Linked DNA regions of Homo sapiens. The protein of the gene in region 1 purifies or fractionates together with the protein of each later gene. This does not show direct contact. Each region holds a gene or a part of one and is shown in the gene's direction. Other genes may lie near its edges. The genes, in order: SLC16A6, WDR48, ERLIN2, ERC1, RER1 and SURF4.

Evidence for each region.
Region 2: the proteins of SLC16A6 (region 1) and WDR48 purify together in Homo sapiens (affinity purification with mass spectrometry; one large-scale study listed by BioGRID and IntAct). This does not show direct contact.
Region 3: the proteins of SLC16A6 (region 1) and ERLIN2 purify together in Homo sapiens (affinity purification with mass spectrometry; one large-scale study listed by BioGRID and IntAct). This does not show direct contact.
Region 4: the proteins of SLC16A6 (region 1) and ERC1 purify together in Homo sapiens (affinity purification with mass spectrometry; one large-scale study listed by BioGRID and IntAct). This does not show direct contact.
Region 5: the proteins of SLC16A6 (region 1) and RER1 purify together in Homo sapiens (affinity purification with mass spectrometry; one large-scale study listed by BioGRID and IntAct). This does not show direct contact.
Region 6: the proteins of SLC16A6 (region 1) and SURF4 purify together in Homo sapiens (affinity purification with mass spectrometry; one large-scale study listed by BioGRID and IntAct). This does not show direct contact.

Annotation. Positions count from the first base shown.
Region 1 is NC_000017.11:68,270,628-68,274,127, reverse strand, and holds part of SLC16A6 (monocarboxylate transporter 7), read left to right. Parts: intron 1-57; coding exon 58-201; intron 202-1,360; coding exon 1,361-1,489; intron 1,490-2,473; coding exon 2,474-3,289; intron 3,290-3,500. UniProt on the Homo sapiens protein: Monocarboxylate transporter selective for taurine. May associate with BSG/CD147 or EMB/GP70 ancillary proteins to mediate facilitative efflux or influx of taurine across the plasma membrane. The transport is pH- and sodium-independent.
Region 2 is NC_000003.12:39,058,516-39,062,015, forward strand, and holds part of WDR48 (WD repeat-containing protein 48), read left to right. Parts: intron 1-3,500. UniProt on the Homo sapiens protein: Regulator of deubiquitinating complexes, which acts as a strong activator of USP1, USP12 and USP46. Enhances the USP1-mediated deubiquitination of FANCD2; USP1 being almost inactive by itself.
Region 3 is NC_000008.11:37,753,634-37,756,277, forward strand, and holds part of ERLIN2 (erlin-2), read left to right. Parts: intron 1-281; coding exon 282-482; 3' UTR 483-2,644. UniProt on the Homo sapiens protein: Component of the ERLIN1/ERLIN2 complex which mediates the endoplasmic reticulum-associated degradation (ERAD) of inositol 1,4,5-trisphosphate receptors (IP3Rs) such as ITPR1.
Region 4 is NC_000012.12:1,078,223-1,081,722, forward strand, and holds part of ERC1 (ELKS/Rab6-interacting/CAST family member 1), read left to right. Parts: intron 1-3,500. UniProt on the Homo sapiens protein: Regulatory subunit of the IKK complex. Probably recruits IkappaBalpha/NFKBIA to the complex. May be involved in the organization of the cytomatrix at the nerve terminals active zone (CAZ) which regulates neurotransmitter release.
Region 5 is NC_000001.11:2,394,841-2,398,340, forward strand, and holds part of RER1 (protein RER1), read left to right. Parts: intron 1-943; 5' UTR 944-950; coding exon 951-1,031; intron 1,032-2,275; coding exon 2,276-2,380; intron 2,381-3,500. UniProt on the Homo sapiens protein: Involved in the retrieval of endoplasmic reticulum membrane proteins from the early Golgi compartment.
Region 6 is NC_000009.12:133,369,561-133,373,060, reverse strand, and holds part of SURF4 (surfeit locus protein 4), read left to right. Parts: exon of another isoform or gene 1-2,139; coding exon of another isoform or gene 2,140-2,185; intron 2,186-3,500. UniProt on the Homo sapiens protein: Endoplasmic reticulum cargo receptor that mediates the export of lipoproteins by recruiting cargos into COPII vesicles to facilitate their secretion.

The DNA of each region.
Region 1 (3,500 bases):
GGCAGCTAACCCTGAAGCCTCTGTGAGTTAAAATATCGTTTTGTTCTTTCCCGGCAGCTCCCCTCGCCACAGTCCTGAGCAATCGTTTCGGACACCGTCTGGTAGTGATGTTGGGGGGGCTACTTGTCAGCACCGGGATGGTGGCCGCCTCCTTCTCACAAGAGGTTTCTCATATGTACGTCGCCATCGGCATCATCTCTGGTAAGTGTTCCTCTTTGGCTCAGAAGTTGTCTAGACACTTAGTTTGAAGAACAAGGAAGGGGAAGGAGGAAATTAAAGCCAAACTATATTTCTTTCTCTTTCTTTTTTTCTTTAACATTAACAGTGTCTCAGATCAGTAGTTTTGAACTGAGCTATATGGACTTCAGGGGACCTGGGAATCTGTTCTCAAGTGCCCAAGGGTTTTTGTTTGATCTTCACCAAAGATGATGATAATTTCTCTTTTGCTGTATTTGCAGCCAAAAGATAGCATTTTTACAAAGTAAGACGAATTTCTGTAGCCAGTATTTCTCACATCAGTGTCTGAGGATCCAGGGCTGTAGGGGAAGTGCAACATGCCAGACTTATTCTTGGGGGCCTAAGAAAACCTTTTTCCATTCAAAAGGAGTAGCCAGCATGGTGGCTCATGCCTGTAATCCCAGCACTTCGGGAGGCTGAGACAGGAGGATCACGTGAGCCCAGCAGTTTGAGACCAACTGGGGCAACATAGGGAGACTCCATCTCTACAAAAAATAAAAACTAGCCAAGCGTGGTGGTGCGTGCCTGTGGTCCCAGCTGTAACCATCCTATCACTTTGGAGGCTGAGGTGGGAGGATCACTTGAGCCTGGGAGGTCAAGGCTCCAGTGAGCTGTGATCACACCACTGCACTCCAGCCTGGGCAACAGAGTGAGACCCTGTCTGTTTAAAAAAAAAAAAATGAAATGAACAATAAAAGGAGGCCATATATTCCTCATAGATGATAGATACACACACAGTTGTTAAGATTTGCAGACTTTAAATTTTTCCTGTATTTCTGCACATATGAAATGACTTATTTCTTTCTAGATACAAATCTTATATAAAATTTCATGCAATAATAGTTTCATCCATTGTGAATTATATAAATTTGAAAAAAAGTGTTGCAAAGATAAAAAAAAAAAAAGTTATATTTTTAGTATCCCAAACAACCACTGAAGTTTATCCAGACCGTTAATGAAACCCATTTTTCTTTGCAACATCACCTTTGTCCAGAATGAATTACTTGGCTCCTAGAACTTAAGATTCAAAAAGCAAAACCAAAAATCCCAGATCTTTTAATGCATCCTTCCAGTCTCAAGCAGTATGTGGGTCTCATTGGCTTTTTTGACTTTTCTTTCACAGGTCTGGGATACTGCTTTAGTTTTCTCCCAACTGTAACCATCCTATCACAATATTTTGGCAAAAGACGTTCCATAGTCACTGCAGTTGCTTCCACAGGAGAATGTTTCGCTGTGTTTGCTTTCGCACCAGGTAGGTGGACTACAACAGCCTAAGTATGAATGTGGATGAGAGACGTCACTCAGGTATTCTTGCTACGCTAACTTTTGCCAACAGTATGGATGACTTTCAGTGTATGTGTAATGAGACGTTATTTACGTCTCTTCTCCAGCTCATTTTTAGGATCTGTCCTCCCTAACCCCCACTTTAGGTATTCAGACCACCTTAATAATAGGTTTCAATTCCTAACTGGGCACATATGCAGTGGTAGGGCTTTCTTGACACATGCATTCCAGAATAATCTAGTAATTTGCAATTATTCACCTGTTATGTCCTCTCGTTTTTCAAAAGAGCTACATTCAATGTGGATTTAGATTATGCTAATAAACACAGCATTCTTATCTGTGTGTAGATCATCTCAAAACAAAATCTGTAACTGAGCACGGTGGCTTACACCTGTAATCCCAGCACTTTGGGAGGCTGAGGTGGGCGGATCACCTGAGGTCAGGTGATCGAGACCAGCCTGGCCAACATGGCAAAAACCTGTCTCTACTTAAAACACACAAAAAAAGGCCAGGTGCAGTGGCTCATGCCTGTAATCCCAGTACTTTGAGAGGCCGAGGCAGGCAGATCAGGAGGTCAGGAGATCGAGACCATCCTGGCCAACACAGTGAAACCCTGTCTCTACTAAAAATACAAAAATTGGCTGGTCGTGGTGGCGCACGCCTATAGTCCCAGCTACTCAGGAGGCTGAGGCAGGAGAATCGCTTGAACCCGGGAGGTGGAGGTTGCGGTGAGCTGAGATCAGGCCACTGCACTCCAGCCTGGTGACAGAGTGAGACTCTGTCTCAAAAAGTAAATAAATAAAGATTGAGTACATTCATACTGCTGAGTATAATAAATTTCCACAGAACTTATAACAAAATCTGGATCCATATTTCTTCTTGATGGCTTCTCCTGGGTCTTGAGTCCATTATTGACCTTATATTATTTCTTCTTCACTCCTGCCTATTCAAGCAATCATGGCTCTGAAGGAGCGCATTGGCTGGAGATACAGCCTCCTCTTCGTGGGCCTACTACAGTTAAACATTGTCATCTTCGGAGCACTGCTCAGACCCATCTTTATCAGAGGACCAGCGTCACCGAAAATAGTCATCCAGGAAAATCGGAAAGAAGCGCAGTATATGCTTGAAAATGAGAAAACACGAACCTCAATAGACTCCATTGACTCAGGAGTAGAACTAACTACCTCACCTAAAAATGTGCCTACTCACACTAACCTGGAACTGGAGCCGAAGGCCGACATGCAGCAGGTCCTGGTGAAGACCAGCCCCAGGCCAAGCGAAAAGAAAGCCCCGCTATTAGACTTCTCCATTTTGAAAGAGAAAAGTTTTATTTGTTATGCATTATTTGGTCTCTTTGCAACACTGGGATTCTTTGCACCTTCCTTGTACATCATTCCTCTGGGCATTAGTCTGGGCATTGACCAGGACCGCGCTGCTTTTTTATTATCTACGATGGCCATTGCAGAAGTTTTCGGAAGGATCGGAGCTGGTTTTGTCCTCAACAGGGAGCCCATTCGTAAGATTTACATTGAGCTCATCTGCGTCATCTTATTGACTGTGTCTCTGTTTGCCTTTACTTTTGCTACTGAATTCTGGGGTCTAATGTCATGCAGCATATTTTTTGGGTTTATGGTTGGAACAATAGGAGGGACTCACATTCCACTGCTTGCTGAGGATGATGTCGTGGGCATTGAGAAGATGTCTTCTGCAGCTGGGGTCTACATCTTCATTCAGAGCATAGCAGGACTGGCTGGACCGCCCCTTGCAGGTAATTTAAATACACAAAATACAAACACTTGTCTACTTTCCCTTGTGAATTGTGCTAGCTTCCTGTTCAAGCCATAAAAAAAACTTACTGCCGTTTTATATTTCCATTGAATTTTAGAGCTGCCAGGGATTAGAGATTACCTGAGCCAGCCCTCTTGATTTAAATATGAGGAAACTGAAGGCCAAAGAATTGAAGCTAAAGGTCAGATGGT
Region 2 (3,500 bases), on another chromosome or scaffold:
ATTTAGATATGCTGCACAGTCTCAGTTAAAGGAAATGTGAGCTAGGTAAGCAGCCCTGGAACCCCAGAGAAAGAGAGATTGAGAGAGGCTGAAGTTGACATTGAAGCTAGCTTGGTTCCTGGTGGCTTTGGAAAGCCAATTCATGCAATGATACGTATGTCTTTTATATGCCAGACACTATAATGGGGGCACAGGGGTGGAAGGAACAAGGCAGACAAGTCCCTTGCCTTCTTGGAGCTATTATTCTAATGGAGAAGATACACCAAAAAATATAAATGTGGCTGGGCGCGGTGGCTCACACCTGTAATCCCAGCATTTTGGGAGGCCAAGGTGGGTGGATCAGAAGGTCAGGAGTTTAAGACCAGCCTGGCCAAGATGGCGAAACCCTGTCTCTACTAAAAATACAAAAATTAGCTGGGCGCCATAGCAGGCACCTGTAATCTAAGCTACTCGGGAGCCTGAGTTGGGAGAATTGCTTGAACCTGGGCAGCAGAGGTTGCAGTGAGCCAAGATCGCACCACTGCACTCCAGCCTGGGCGATACAGTGAGACTCCGTCTCAAAAAAAAAAAAAAAAAAAAAATACAGAATGTGGTAAGAACTGTTAAATAAGTAATGTAAGATAGATAGGGTCATAACCCTGAGGAGAATGAGATCAGAAAGGCCTTTCCAAGGAGACCTTTCTCCTAAGATCTGAAGAGTAAGGGTGAGTTAGACAAGATGAAAGCTGGAGAAAGAGTATTCCTATAGGGATTCGAGGGGTGGTGAATCTTCATGACACTGGCAACAGTAAATGAGAAGGTACTGGGATGGGAAAGAGCTTGATGTGTTTACGGTAACAGAAAGGAGTTTGGAATGACTGTCATAAAAGAAGCTGGGGGCAGTCAGTTTGAAATGAGTGGGGGATGCAGGGTCAGAACTAAGCATTTGAGGAGTTTGAACTTTAAATTTTGTGAAAAGCCATTGGAAAGTTTCAGCAGAGAAGTGTCATGATTTGATTTTTTAAATGCCTCTTATAAATGATGACTGTATTTCCTGACCTTGGGCTCTGTTAAGATATCCTTGTGTTGAAGTCTCCTTTAAAAAACAAACAAACAAACAAAAGCTGGTTTGAGTAGATCTCAGTTACAGTTAATTGCATCCAAAAGACTGGGTTAAAACAACATCCTTGTAGCTATTTGTGTCTGCAGCCCTGGCCCTTTTTAAAGGACAAATTTCTGGAAATTGAATTTTAAAGAACATTTCAAAGAGTTTAAAACTTTTGTCAGAAAGTGTTTATTTATCCTCAGGGGAAACAAAAATGGCAGTTATTTTAAAAAATTCTTGTATTATAGGTAAAATAATCTCATATTAATTTTGTCTTTGATTATTTATGGGGTTTTTGGCCATTTCTTTTTTAAAAAGTCCCTTTTTGTAACTGTCCCTCTTTCTGTTGGTAAATTTGACTTTTTCTTATTTTATAAGGAATCTTGTTAAGAGTAAACTTTCTTTCATATTTATTTCATTATTCTCTTAGTCTTGCTCGTGTTACTTTTTGACATTCAGAAGGTTTAAGAAAATAATAACATTGTGATAAAATTCACATACCATAAAGTGCACCCTTTCAAAGTGTACAATTCAGTGATTTTTTTGTATATTCGGAAAGTTGTTTATTGGTCACCTAACTCCAGAATGTTTAATTACTCTATGTTCATTAGCAATTACTCCCCGTTTTTCATTTTTCCCTCCTTCAATCTCCTGGCAATTACTAATCTACTTTCTGTGTGGATTTGTCTATCCTAGACATTATATATAAATAGAGTCATAAAATATGTGGCCTTTTGTAAAATATGTGGCTTCTTTCACTTAGCACATTTTCAAGGTTCATCCACGTTATAGCATGTGTCAGTACAGTGTGTGTGTGTGCATATATATATATATATATGCACACACACACATCACATTTTATTTGTTTTGTCCATTGATGGATATTTGGGTTGTTTCCACTTTTGTAACATTATTGTGAATGCCACAATGCTGTGAACATTCTTGTACATAGAAAAGGTTTTGACTTGTATTTGGCCAGATCACCATTGCTCTTTTCCTTCGTAAAGATTACCATCTTTCTTGGCATGTTGGAAGAGTTTTCTCTGGCAAGGGACTATGTAAATATTCACCTGTCTTTTAAAAATTATTTTTATGCTGGCCAGGTGCAGTGGCTCACGCCTGTAATCCCAGCACTTTGGGAGGCTGAGGCGGGTGGACCACTTGAAACCCAGCCTGGCCAACATGGTGAAACCACCATCTCTACTAAAAATGCAAAAATCAGCTGGGCACAGTGGCATATGCCTGTAATCCCAGCTACTCAGGAGGCTGAGGCACGAGAATTGCTTGAACCTGGGAGGTAGAGGATGTAGTAAGCCAAGATCGGGCCACTGCTTTCCAGCCTGGGTGACAGAGCAAGATTCTCTCAAAAAATAAAAACAAAAATTATTTTTATGGTTATTAAATTTCAGTCTTTAATTCATAGAAAAATTCGTTTTTGGTTTAAGATGTGGAGAAAGGGTATAATTGTTCCTAATAGAATCACTATAGGTACTTGAGATAATTTTTTTTAATTATTATACTTCAAGTTCTAGGGTACATGTGCACAACGTGCAGGTTTGTTACATAAGTATACATGTGCCATGTTGGTTTGTTGCACCCATCAACTTGTTATTTACATTAGGTATTTCTCCTAATGCTATCCCTCCCCCAGCCCCCTACCCCCCAACATGCCCCAGTGTGTGATGTTCCCTGCCCTGTGTCCATGTGTTCTCATTGTTCAGCTCCCACTTACGAGTGAGAACATGTGGTGTTTGGTTTTCTGTCCTTGTGATAGTTTGCTGAGAATGATGGTTTCTGGCTTCATCCATGTCCCTGCAAAGGACATGAACTCATCCTTTTTTATGGCTGCATAGTATTCCATGGTGTATATGTGCCACATTTTCTTAATTCAGTCTATCATTGATGGACATTTGGGTTGGTTCCAAGTCTTTGCTATTGTGAATAGTGCTGCAATAAACATACGTGGGCATGTTTCTTTATAGTAGAATGATTTATAATCCTTTGGGTATATACTCAGTAATGGGATGGCCGGGTCAAATGGTATTTCTAGTTGTAGATTCTTGAGGAATCGCCACACTGTCTTCCACAGTGGTTGAACTACTTTACACTCCCACCAACAGTGTAAAAGCATTCCTATTTCTCCACATCCTCTCCAGCATCTGTTGTTTCCTGACTTTTTAATGACTGCCACTCTAACTGGCATGAGATGGTATCTCATTGTGGTTTTGATTTGCATTTCTCTGATGGCCAGTGATGATGAGCATTTTTTCTTGTGTCTGCTGCAGAAATGTCTTCTTTTGAGAAGTGTCTGTTCATATCCTTTGCCCACTTTTTGATGGGGTTGTTTTTGTTGTTGTTGTTGTTGTACATTTGTTTAAGTTCTTTGTAGATTCTGTATATTAGCCCTTTGTCAGAT
Region 3 (2,644 bases), on another chromosome or scaffold:
GGGCAGAACTGAGGATGCCTTTGCTGTGTGGTGCAGGTACTTTCCTTCTCCTTGGACATGCCTTGATAGAAGTTTAGTTTAATTTTGTGTTAAACATGGAAACTTTTAACTTTTGCACCTATGCTCCAAGATCTGAGATGACTGTCTCTTACAGAAATGTAACAATGAGACCACAAAAAGTAGGTAGGGGCATAAATATAGGAAAATTGAAGGGGCACCACTCCCCTCCTTCTCTAATATGGTTCAACATAAGTCTTCCATACTTTTTTTTTTTTTAACAGCTGAAGCTAACCCCTGAATATCTGCAGCTGATGAAGTACAAGGCCATTGCTTCCAACAGCAAGATTTACTTTGGCAAAGACATTCCTAACATGTTCATGGACTCTGCGGGCAGTGTGAGCAAGCAGTTTGAGGGGCTAGCTGACAAGCTAAGCTTTGGCTTAGAAGATGAACCCTTGGAGACGGCCACTAAGGAGAATTGAAAAAAACTTGATATGACTGCAAATGATACTTAAGCAGATCTTTATTTTTTAAGATGAATCAGAATGTTCCTCCCTCCCCGACTACCTTCTCTGACTGTCTTCCAGTTACTGTGGTGAAAAAGAAGAAATGAACTTAAATCCACTCCCTTTCTAGGGAAAGGAGGGTGGGGACTGATGATGGGGGGTTTTATTTCAGGTAAGCAGTTTATATGACTTCCAATAAGATTTGTAAATCATGGGCTTGACCTTTGACCTCTAGACACTAATTTTATCCTTTGAGGCTGGCTTAATTAGGGATGCTGTCATTAAGGAGAGGGAGAAATGTAGAGTGTTACCTCCAACTCATTTGATTTCCCTTACTTGGGAAAATGCAGTCCAGTGTTCTCACCTCTGCCTCCAAGGTAGGAGATGTCTGTGGGTGAGGCTCAGCAACTGAGCAAATATGTGCCTGTGAGTTTGCCAGTAGAGCTGTGAAGAAACAGCTGCAGAGAACATTTGACCTTCCTGGCATTCTTGTCTGCATGTGTGTGAGTTATTTTAGAGGTGTGCTTTCTTGAGCCCTCATAAGGAAGTACTGGTGCTAGGTTTTGCAAGATTTTGTATACACTTTGCTCCTTGCCCTAGGGCTCAGAGTGGTGGTTTCTGACTACATTTCTAGAGTCAGAGCTTGATCACCACAACTCAATTATTTCGGCATCTTTTCACCTATGCTGTGATTTGTTTTTTTTTTTTCTTCTCAAAAATTCTGTTCATTGGTTCCACTCAGCATCAAGAAGACAGGGACAAACAACTCAAGTGTCTTAACAGCTGCTGGAGTGGGATCCTTGTTATCTCTTAGCCACTGCAGGACCTGCCTGACAGGTTATGTGTGCACCTCGAGATGAAGTGTCTTTCTATTATTGTAGAGATTCTGTAGTGAAGAGGTCTGACACCATGTGTGGAGGAGGAGGAACGATCAGTCAAGAGATGTCCTGGTCTTAATGCCTGTGGCTTGTGCTGGGAGTGGGTCTGACTTAGTGATAAAAGGACTCTATTCACTAAGTAGCCTGTGTTTTTAAATCCAGGGCTGCAGGCAGCAACGCAAGTCAGGCTGAACATTCAGTCTCCAGAGACAGCTGTGTGGAGCAAATCAGAGTTCATGCCCAAGTCCCCAGGTTGGAATGGCTGTGCCAAAATCCATTCAAAGGGTTTTCTTTTTCATTACTAGGTCAGAACATTTTGAGTCACCTTGGGAGATTCAGGATGGGGAGAGCAAATTTGAACAAAAGGTTTTTCTTATATCCTGAGATTGAGGGGTAGGGGGTGTCCAACCTGTATAGCCCATGGGTTGTGTCTAGAATTAAGTGGAGGGCAGCTATCTGGAGTTAACTTGCAAGCATATTGGTGCCCTCCATGACCACCTCTGGCTTAGGACTTGGCCCTGTTATGAGCTGACCCCCACCCCCCACCCCCCACCCCCCCCCCCCGCCAACTCCTATACCCATCTTCCCTAGGTGAATCTGTGAATGGTCCTTTCTGGCAGCAATCCCTGCCTTCTTTTTGGGCCCATGCCCAGACTTCTGGTTTAAGGAATGGTCCCAGAGCTTGGGCCAGCTTGCTCAGAAGTTTTGGGAGCATTGAGCCTGCCTAGAAAGATACAGTGTTAGCTCCCCTTACTTCAAAGTTGCCCTTCTCTGTTCTGACTCCTGGGACTTCTGGTCCTGGGCACACTTTTTGCAGGCAACAAAATGTGCCTGGGAGTGATGGATTTTAATGTGCTCCAGAGTCCTTTCAGAAGGTGGTCATTTCCCTTGGCCGGGCGCGGTGGCTCACACCTGTAATCCCAGCACTTTGGGAGGCCAAGGCAGGCGGATCACCTGAGGTTAGGAGTTCGAGACCACCCTGGCCAACATGCGAAACCCCATCTCTACGAAAAATAGAAATATTAGCCGGGCATGGTGTCAGGCACCTGTAATCCCAGCTACTTGGGAGGCTGAGGCAGGAGAATTGCTTGAACTCGGGAGGCAGAGGTTGCAGTGAGCCAAGATCATGCCATCCCACTCTAGCTTGGGCAATAGAGCAAGGCTCCGTCTCAAGAAAAGAAGGTCATTTCCCAAGACTAGCATAGGGAGTATCCATTTAAAATACATTCATCTTCCTCCCATTTCCGTGCTATTAATCAC
Region 4 (3,500 bases), on another chromosome or scaffold:
TCACTTCTGGTATTTCCCTTTGGGATATATTCACTCAGGAGTGTCAGGATTTTTTTTGACTTCCAAGGGAAAGAAACTAGGCTTCAGAGAATTAGCATTTTGATACATCTTTTTATTGAAGGTCTTTTGAACTCCAGCAACTGTTAATCTTTAAAAGATGATGCTGGTAGTGAAATGCATTTTAAAATTTATATTCATGAATTTAAATTCCTGATTTTTTTTTTTTTGGTGAGTTTATTCTTCGAAAGAAATAGCAGTGCTTTTCAAGTGTTTGAAGACTACCAGAATTGAAAGCTCACTGCTTGCTAAAAGCATAATACCCAAACCGGAAATGATAAAGGAAAATGTCATTGTCTTTGTATTAAAAAAGAAAATATCTATTAAAAGTCATCATAAACAATGTTAAAAGAAAAATGGCAGACTTGGAAAAATATTTGTAACATACACAGCAGGTGAAAGGTTATTTTCCTAATATGAAGAGCTCTTAAAATGGATTAAGAAAAAATGTTCAATAACAAAATGGGCAAAGAACAAGGAGAGAGGAGTCACAAAAGTTGATATACAAAGACACAGATAGAAATGATTTGTAATATGACAAAAGTCGATATACAAAGATACATATAGAAATGATTTGTAATATGACAAAAGTCGATATACAAAGATACAGATAGAAATGATTTGTAATATGATAAAAGTCGATATACAAAGATACAGATAGAAATGATTTGTAATATGACAAAAGTCAATATACAAAGATACAGATAGAAATGATTTGTAATATGACAAGTCGATATACAGAGATACAGATAGAAATGATTTGTAATATGACAAAAGTCGATATACAGAGATACATATAGAAATGATTTGTAATATGACAAAAGTCGATATACAGAGATACATATAGAAATGATTTGTAATATGACAAGTCGATATACAGAGATACAGATAGAAATGATTTGTAATATGACAAAAGTCGATATACAGAGATACAGATAGAAATGATTTGTAATAAGACAAAAGTCGATATACAGAGATACAGATAGAAATGATTTGTAATACGACAAGTCGATATACAGAGATACAGATAGAAATGATTTGTAATATGACAAAAGTCGATATACAGAGATACAGATAGAAATGATTTGTAATATGACAAAAGTCGATATACAGAGATACAGATAGAAATGATTTGTAATATGACAAAAGTCGATATACAGAGATACAGATAGAAATGATTTGTAATATGACAAAAGTCGATATACAGAGATACAGATAGAAATGATTTGTAATATGACAAAAGTCGATATACAGAGATACAGATAGAAATGATTTGTAATATGACAAAAGTCGATATACAGAGATACAGATAGAAATGATTTGTAATATGACAAAAGTCGATATACAGAGATACAGATAGAAATGATTTGTAATATGACAAAAGTCGATATACAGAGATACAGATAGAAATGATTTGTAATATGACAAAAGTCGATATACAGAGATATAGACAGAAATGATTTGTAATATGACAAAAGTCGATATACAGAGATACAGATAGAAATGATTTGTAATATGACAAAAGTCGATATACAGAGATACAGATAGAAATGATTTGTAATATGACAAAAGTCGATATACAGAGATACAGATAGAAATGATTTGTAATATGACAAAAGTTGATATACAAAGATACATATAGAAATGATTTGTAATATGTATCAGAATTACAATTGTACATACTTTGTGATCCAGCAATTCCATCTTTGAGAGTTCCCAAGAAAAATGTGGATTCATGTGTAAAGATACATATGTGAAGGTGCATCTTACAATAGTGAAAAATGAGAACTAACCTAAAATATCCGTAAGTGGAATTTTATGACCAACATCTTCTCTCCAACCAATTTTTTTATTATGGTAAAATATATATAACATAAAATTTACCATCTTAACCATTTCGAAGTGTACAGTTTAGTGGCATTCAGTATATCCCATCTATCTCCAGAACTCTTTTCATCTTGACAGACTGAAACTGTATACCCATTAAACAATAACTCCTCGTTCTGTCCCACTCCTATGTCCTGGCAACCACTGTTCTAGTTCCTTCTTTATCAATTCGACTGCTCTAGATACCTCATGTCAATGGATACATATAGTGTTTGTCTTTTTGTGATTGGCTTATTTCACTTAGCACAACGTCTTGAAGGTTCATCTGTGTTGTAGCATGTGTAAGAATTTCTTTCCTTTTTAAGGCTGAAAATCATTAGCAGGTGATATGGTTTGGCTGTGTCTCCATTCAAATCTCAACTGGAATTGTATCTCTCAGAATTCCCACATGTTGTGGGAGGGCCATAGGAGGAGGTAATTGAATCATGGGGGCCAGTCTTTCCCATGCTATTCTCGTGATAGTGAGTAAGTCTCACGAGATCTGATGGGTTTATCAGGGGGTTCCGCTTTTGCTTCTTCCTGATTTTCTCTTGCTGCCGCCATGTAAGAAGTGCCTTTTGCCTCATACCGTGATTCTGAGGCTTCCTCAGCCATGTGGAACTGTAAGTCCAATTAAACAAGTGCCTTTTGCCTCATACCGTGATTCTGAGGCTTCCTTAGCCACGTGGATCTGTAAGTCCAATTAAACCTCTTTTTGTTTCCAGTTTTGGGTATGTCTTTATCAGCAGCGTGAAAACGAACTAATAGAGCAGCCACCTTATTTCCAAAAAAAAAAAAAGATTTTTTCAATGGATAATGCAGGTATTTATACCCTTATTTAAAGTATGAGGGATCTGAAACCCAGAAAGATGGTGACATGTCTAAATGTCATAACTAGTCAGCGTGAGAGTCAGAACTGAAACTCATGTTTTCTCATCACAGTTTCGTGTTCTTCCCAGTATGGTACACTGCTTAGGCCTTGAATACAAGGAATGATCTTTTATTGTTGCTTCTTCATTCCTAAAAATAAGATTTTTGATGTCACAGCCTTTTGGAATTCATTGTATAATGTGCTGGAATTTACATAACCATTCAGATTAAAGGTTCGTGTACCTTCTTTAGGGATAGAAGCTAAAGATCTACCCTCTCAAACATTTTAGTAGTTCATCTGCATTAACACCTTTATTTAATTAGCCACCCATGTTGTTACCGTCCCCTGTATAAAAAGCTTTGCATATTCTAACTTAAAAAAACTTTGCTATATTATTATCTTTGGGTATTACCAGTTTTGATTTCTGCAATCTGCTCTGTTTTTGCTACTAGAGGAGGAAAGCTGATTTGGAGTTTTCTTTTTTTCTTGGTTCTAGTTTTAGTGGGCTGCAAGGATTGCTTTGAATGCCAGCTCTATCACTTACTCTGTGATCTTGGACAAGTGCTTAAACCTCTCTAAGCCTCGTGCCCTCATTTATAAAATTAAATAATAGTACATGTGTTGGGTATCTAAAATAGTCAAATTCACAGAATCAAAGTGTGTAATGGTAGTTGCCGGGGGTAGGGGGAAATGGAGAGTTACTAAT
Region 5 (3,500 bases), on another chromosome or scaffold:
GCTCAGGGGCCAGGAGGCCTCTCATCTTTAAAGTAGGAATGACAACCGGCAGGCCCTGGGTACTGAGCTGTGCTTTACCGAAGAGCGGCAGGTCCTGACGCCGTCTCCTCTCAGGAGTGGGGTGGCGGCGTGCTCAGCTGAGGAGCCAGGTGGCAGTCAGGCTTGGCTTGGCCTGCCCAGAAGCAGGGCTGTGGCAGGACCTTGGACACGTGGCTTCCACTGTTTGAGACTTGGTGAAATGGGGGTCATGATGCCCTTCACTTGAGCATCTGGGAATTAAGTGGGTGAACAATGTGACCTCTGGCACCTGGGTTCTCAGGTGAATTCCTCATGGCATCACAGCAGTGTTGAAATAGGAGCAGATACGTTACCTCCGCTTGCCAGATAAGAAACTGGGACGCAGATGGATGGACTACCTGAGAGTTGTAGATAACATTTTCCTGTTCATGGGGTGGAGGACCTGGCCCTGAGAGGACAGGATCCCTCCTGCTCCTGCCAGACCAGAGACCCAGGACAGGGCGTGGAGCAGACAAGGTGCCTGGGCGGGGGAACCCTGAGGGATCCACAGAGGGTGCGGTCCTTGGAGGGAGGACATGCAGTGCCACGTGCCATGGACCAGCCAGTGGACCCCATGGCCAGCAAGGCTGCTCCTGGGGCCAGTGGGGTGGACAGTCCCGCCCACGCAGGTGACTGAGGTGCCAGTGTGGGAATGAAAATGCGGCCTGTGCTCCTGGGCCCATGCGTCTCACGCTGCCCTTCCTCTCCAGGGAAGCCTGTGTACCTGCTACTTTTTCCCGAACAATTCATGGTAAAAACACAAATGGTATATGGACAAAATACTGAATGTGGAAGAAACCTACTTGACAGTGTTGGTGAAAATAGGGCCAGGATTTCACACCCGTGAATGCTTTTTACTGAAAAGTATTTTGTGTTTTTCTCCCAGTTACAGAATGTCTGAAGGGGACAGTGTGGGAGAATCCGTCCATGGGAAACCTTCGGTGGTGTACAGATTTTTCACAAGACTTGGACAGGTTGGTGGGTTTTTTAGTAGATGAGTATAAATATTTGAAAAAGAAACGGGACTCCCAGCATTTTCGGGAAGGATCTGTTTGCTGGTGTTCCTGATGGAGAAGTTACTTCGCCTCAGGCTCAAACTTCCTGAAGACAGCGTTCTCTTCACTGTGAAGGGCCAGCTGTGGAGAGATCGGGCTCTGGGGCCACACGTGGTCTATCAAACATATGCGTTTTCTGTTTCTGTTTTCCTTTTACCAAGCTTTAAAAATATAAAACCCAGTCTCAGCTCCCAGGCAGGACAGATGCGGCCGTGGCTGCCGTTCTGCTCTTGCTGTCCCTCTCCCAGCCACCCACGTCCCCGGTGCTGGTAGCCCCACCTGCCCCGTGTCAGCTCGGCGGTTCTGTCCTTGAGGGTGAGAGGCTCTTGTGTGGGCTGCGTGTGCATTGCTTGGTGAGTGAGGGACCTAGAGCTGCCTTTGAACGCTGGAGTCCGAACCTCTGTCAGGAAAAGCTTGGGTCACCGGCAGTTCCAGGTGCTGAGGATCCGGCTCAAATAAAAATTCATCACCTTAATTAAATCACATATGAAAAGCGATTGGCGATTAATGAAGTTGGGTGACAGGCATATGTAAGCTTCTATAATCTTTTTACTTTTGTGAATTTGGAAATTTCTCACAATTTGAAAATTAAATTTCTAAATTAAAATAAAAAACCATACATATGTATATTTGTAAAAATAAATACATAAAACTAAGGGCTCCTTCGGTCATGTCCACAGCCGCCTGGACGCACACACATGTGGGTGTGGCTGCTGGGGCTCAGGCTGTGGCCAGTGGGCCTGGGAGCGGGGCAAGGCTGGCTGCTGGCTGCTGCAGATGGGGGAGCTGACTTGAGATGTGACGATAAGGGCTGTGCTGTAGGGTGGGGACTTTGAGATGCACAGTCCTCTCTTTGGGGTGAGGCTGGGTCTTCCCCATAGTGATCCCTTGGGGCCAGCACAATGTCACAGTCTCCTAGGAGATTGTTTTGTAATAGTCTTGCTTAAGAGATGAACCTGCTTCAGGAATTATTGAAAATAAACTTTGGATTAATTGTAGTCACTTCTTTGTGCTGATACATAGATGATCTCTTGCTATTTTAACTCACTCTTTTAGCTGTTTTAAAAATTGAAAGCCAACCCTAGCAGAAGGTACATTTTGTGGCAGGGTCAGTACAGAAGTTACAGGACCTGCTTCATGCTTTTGGACTCTTGTCTTTCTAGATTTATCAGTCCTGGCTAGACAAGTCCACACCCTACACGGCTGTGCGATGGGTCGTGACACTGGGCCTGAGCTTTGTCTACATGATTCGAGTTTACCTGCTGCAGGTAGGTGTGGGCTGAAGTGACGAGACTTGGCTCTGTCCACGTTACCTGGGCGTGATGTTTGTGGGGATGTTGTTGATCCAGTCTGTCTTGCAGGAAGTGGTCTCTAGTAATCAATTTTCAGCTAAACGCCAAATGTCAGAAAGATCTCAGTGACTGTCTTTAACGAACAGGGTTGTTTATGATTCACCCGGAGTCGCCTCGCCAGGCTTCTCAGTATACCCAGGCCGTCCTGAGCCCAGCCTGGCCCTGCCCTGGGCACGTCCAGGCCTGGACAGTGGAGCCGCTGGTGTCCCTCCGACCCTGCTGCATGATGCTCAGGACAAGGTTGCGCTCTGTGGCTGCCTCATTCCTTGGGTGAAGAGTCCATGCCTTGGGTGTCATGAATGACTCGGCGTCCAAAGGGTTTATGTAGCTTTTCCTGAGCTCTCCCTTGTGTGAGGCCAAAGCACAGTGCAGGTTGAGACGCCGAGTCAAGTAAGAGAGACAGTGACCGAAGGGGGTCTTGAGGGTTTCCTTCGTGTGTTTTCGGGCACCCCTAGGTCAGGTGATGTCGTCTCAGACTTCACCTGGGTGCTCCTTTACTTGCTGGTAAACACGGGGTTTCTAGGAGCAAACCTGTAAGATGGGAATTCTTCGTCGGTCTTTAGAGGAGGTTACATAATCTTATGTGCAGAGCAGGGCATGTTGAAAGCCTTGTCTGGGCTATTTTCTCCTCTGGGGACTGTAGAAGATACTTCCTTGTTTAAAGCACACACCTTAATTTATTTATTTATTTTTGTTTTTAAATTGGAACTGGGTCCATTCTCTGATGGAAAGAATGACCTAGAAATCTTGAATCAGGGACTTCAGGCAGGAGCAGGGGGCGGGAAGAGTGCAGCACCCACAGGTCAGTTTTATTGCGTTCGAAACCAAGCTCGTGCCTCATTTGGCGTCTCTTCAGGTGTGGCCCTGCAGCCGAGGATGGACACACAGACATCAGTTAGCCCTCACATCCGGCGTTCAGCCGAGGATGGACACACAGACATCAGTTAGCCCTCACATCCGGCGTTCAGCCAGGGATGGACACACAGACATCAGTTAGCCCTCACATCTGGCGTTCAGCCGTCTGACTGGAAAAGCT
Region 6 (3,500 bases), on another chromosome or scaffold:
ACCCAAGTGGGTTAGGACCATATCTGTAAGGCACCATATCTGTAAGGCAGCGCAGGCTGCCGCCGTCAGATGATCTCCTTAAGAGTCCGTCTAGGTGGTGGCAGAGCATGGCTGTGGGAGCTTCCATGCCCTTTTGTGGGCAGCTTGGGAGGGCAGCTACTTGTACTCGCCCAAACCCCAATCAGACAGATGCAGGCAAGTAAACAGGGTTCGAAGTCAAAATATGGCTTCTTGTGGACAGAATCTGACCAAGCCCAGGTGGGGCTTTGTTTCTCTTTATTCACATAGTACTTAAAGCTGCCAGACCAGGCTTTTACATGAAAATGACCTAATTTGAAGCCGATAGAGGATTACCATGGAAGTCACTGATCAGATAAAGTGACACATCCATTTTTTCACATCTTCAGAAAACAAGAGCAAAACTGAAGTGACAAGATTTGACCAGAAAGTGTGGGCTGCTGAAAGCAAGACCTAAGTAAGCTTAGTTTCCCAGGCCCAGTGTCTTCCAGTATTATGACAATGACATTAAGTCTTTCACTGGGCCGGGTCCATGATAGACATTCCTTTTGTGAACTTCTTGACTGTAGGAGGTTGGCCAGAGCGTCACCATCTTCAGATGGGCAGAGGGAGGTTGGCTGGCCGCACTGGCTTGTGGTGGCCTGGAGACTGAGTCCGCATCCTGTTACCCCAAAGGCTGGGTTCCTCACTGCTTGGTTGACTGATCTTTCCTTCTGGCCTGCAGAGGCTGGTCCACGGGGACGAGCAGTCTGGTTAGTTTCTGCTGGCAGGCTCCCCACAGTTGCATCTCTTGTCTCTCTGCCTCTGGCATCAAGCTGCTTGCTCTGGCAGCCAGGGACAGTGTCCTCTTGCTCCCAGGAGCCATGCTCTGTAGAAACTGCTGAGACGTGCTCTATGCAGGAGCTTGGCATTTGGAAGCCATGGGAAGGGTCCAGAAACTAATGAACTCAGCAATCCAAACTAATGTCCATGCCTGCAGCTGCTCCTCATTGCCTATTAGACACTCTGTAAAATGTAGCTTCTAAGCAGTTTATACCCATAAACAGCAATATTAGCACTTAATGGGTTCTGCCTGGTGGCTCATCACCAAGGTGACAGAAAAGCTGCATGGGGCCTTCCTCTCCAGTGTGACCTTTGGTGTTTTTAACCTGTCCTCAAGAGTGGCAGAGCTAGTCCTGGGCCCTAGGAGCTGGCCTCGGCCCTAGTTGAAGTGCTGGGGAAGCAAGGATAGGCCTGAGGACCCCTGAACTTGCAGGTGGCACAGGCACTGTGAGGGTCCCGATGAACACCATGCTGGTGACTGGTGTGGCAAAGTCCTGGTGACAGTGGCAGGCTCTGTCATACCCTGCCCTATATCATGAAGGAGTGGGGAGAGAAGGCAAAGAGGAGCTGACTCACTTTTCTTTGTGTGATGATCTTAACGGGAGGTTAAAACTCACTCTTCAGGGGAGTGCGGGCGAGGAGCAGAGGAGGTTGTGGTTAGCGGGGCTCCTCCCAGAACATGGGGCCCAGTCGTTCTCAGTTACGTCTTTCCTATAGTTGGGATTTTGATCACACAGTTTTTTAGTAAAGCCAGGCCATCATCTCCCACATTGGGCTGGCGACATCCTTTCTGGCCCTGCAGGGTGCAGTGTGAACCTATAGAGCAGCATGGGAGCGGGGCTCGGGGAAGTTCTGGAGCTGCAGTGAGCCAGTGAGCTCGAGCCAGCTCTGACAGGCTGATGTGAGGGAAGCCGCTGGGCCGCAGGTGCTTGTTTCTAGGATGTGTGGGACCTGAGTTGGGCTTTGAACAAGGCAGCCCCAGTCCTTGGTGATCAAGGAAATCTGACCTGCCTTTTTCGTCGATGTTCACATTCACCACGAATTTGCAAGCTGCTTTCCTCAATTTCTTTCTGTCCTGAGTGTGAAGAGAAAGTGGAGTTTTCTGTGTGGCGTGGGAGCTGCAGGTGGCTGTGACAGTGATCACTGGATGCCCAGGAAGTCATCTCAGGGTGGATATAATTAATTACGTTTCTAAAATCCCCTTCAGTCGTCTAAAATAACCACCCCTTTGAGAGAAATATCAGTCTTCCTGTTAAGCCCCTCAGATGCTGTCACTGCTTATGAACCATATCCTGCTTGATGGCGCGGTTCTCGGAGAGACTTAATGAGAAGCTTGGCCACAGAGGTGAGCTAACTGTCATCTTCTTCCTGCAGCCTGCCAGGTCAACAGCCACCTCTGGCTCTGCTGTCGCAGTTCTCTAATGGGGGGGAGGGGGACTGTCACAAGTTTTATGTGCTCGCCGTGTTTACACAGGTCACCTGTGTGCTGGCTACCAGCAATGGCCTTAGTGCCTGCAGTGCGGCTGCTCTTGTCTGTCCTGGGGTGCTGTGTGTCCTGCCTGTGTTGAGGGCTCTTCTCTGCTGTGCTGAGGGGACACTGGCTCTGGGACGTGTTCTAGAGTGGCATGACATGGTTCCAGTGGCCAAGTTGAAGTAGTTGTGACCAACATGCATGTAGGAAATAAGGTTAATGTTGGGCCTTGTCTTTAAACGTGGCTTTTTCAGTGTTCAGTCCAAACAGATGCTCATTAAATGGTGGCCAGTTTAGAGGAGACTGCATCAGCCTGACTTCAGCCTTCAGTGTGGACCAGGCTTGCCTTTGAAAACCAGGACAGCCAAGCAGTAGGTGTGCTCAGTTCAGAAGGCAGTACCTAGATTTTTGCATATTTTTCCCCAAAGCCAAGAGCTGTGTCTGTTTCGTCACCATGTTTGCGCAGGGAAGGAGGTGTGAATTGCCTGTCCCACCTTCTCTCTCTTTTTTGCTCTTTAATCCTCTTGACCCAGACACTCAAATTAAGAGTCGCAGACTCATTCAAAGAGACTTTTAAACACTGCCTCAATCTCGTGGGCTGTGCACGTAGATGAGCATGTTAAATGCAGGTCCTGCAACTGGGGGAGGCTTAGACCGCAGCCCATGGCTGGGCTGGTTTGCTCATCTCAGGCCAGTGAGTGGCTCACAGCTCTCATTTTAGAAGCAAGTCAGAACACCTCTGGTGTCTGTCTTGGGTATGGATTGCAGTCTACCTCTCTGCTGCTGTTGGGGTCCACGCCCCACACCCACACCCTGCCCTGGGAGTCCCACCACGGCTCCGTCTCATCTCAGAGGTCTGGACAGCCTCCTGTTGAGCTCTTCCTTCCCAGTGGTTGCTTTTCCCCAGGTTCAGATGAGATAAAGGCTTGTGTCCTTGCTGGGGCTTCCCAGCTGGGCCACGATGTGAGGCCATTCCTTGAGAGCAGTGGCACATCGTGTGCCACGGTGGTGTGCTTTCTCTCTTCCATGGAATATGGGTGATTACACTGTTGCTGGGCATTTAGAGAGCAACGGGGCCATGAGGCAGAACCTGGGGAGGGTGTGTGGCGTCACCTTTCCCACCACCCAGTGTGATGCAGGTTGCGTCACACTGTGCACATGGGCATCTTGTGCTGGTTCTCTGCATTGG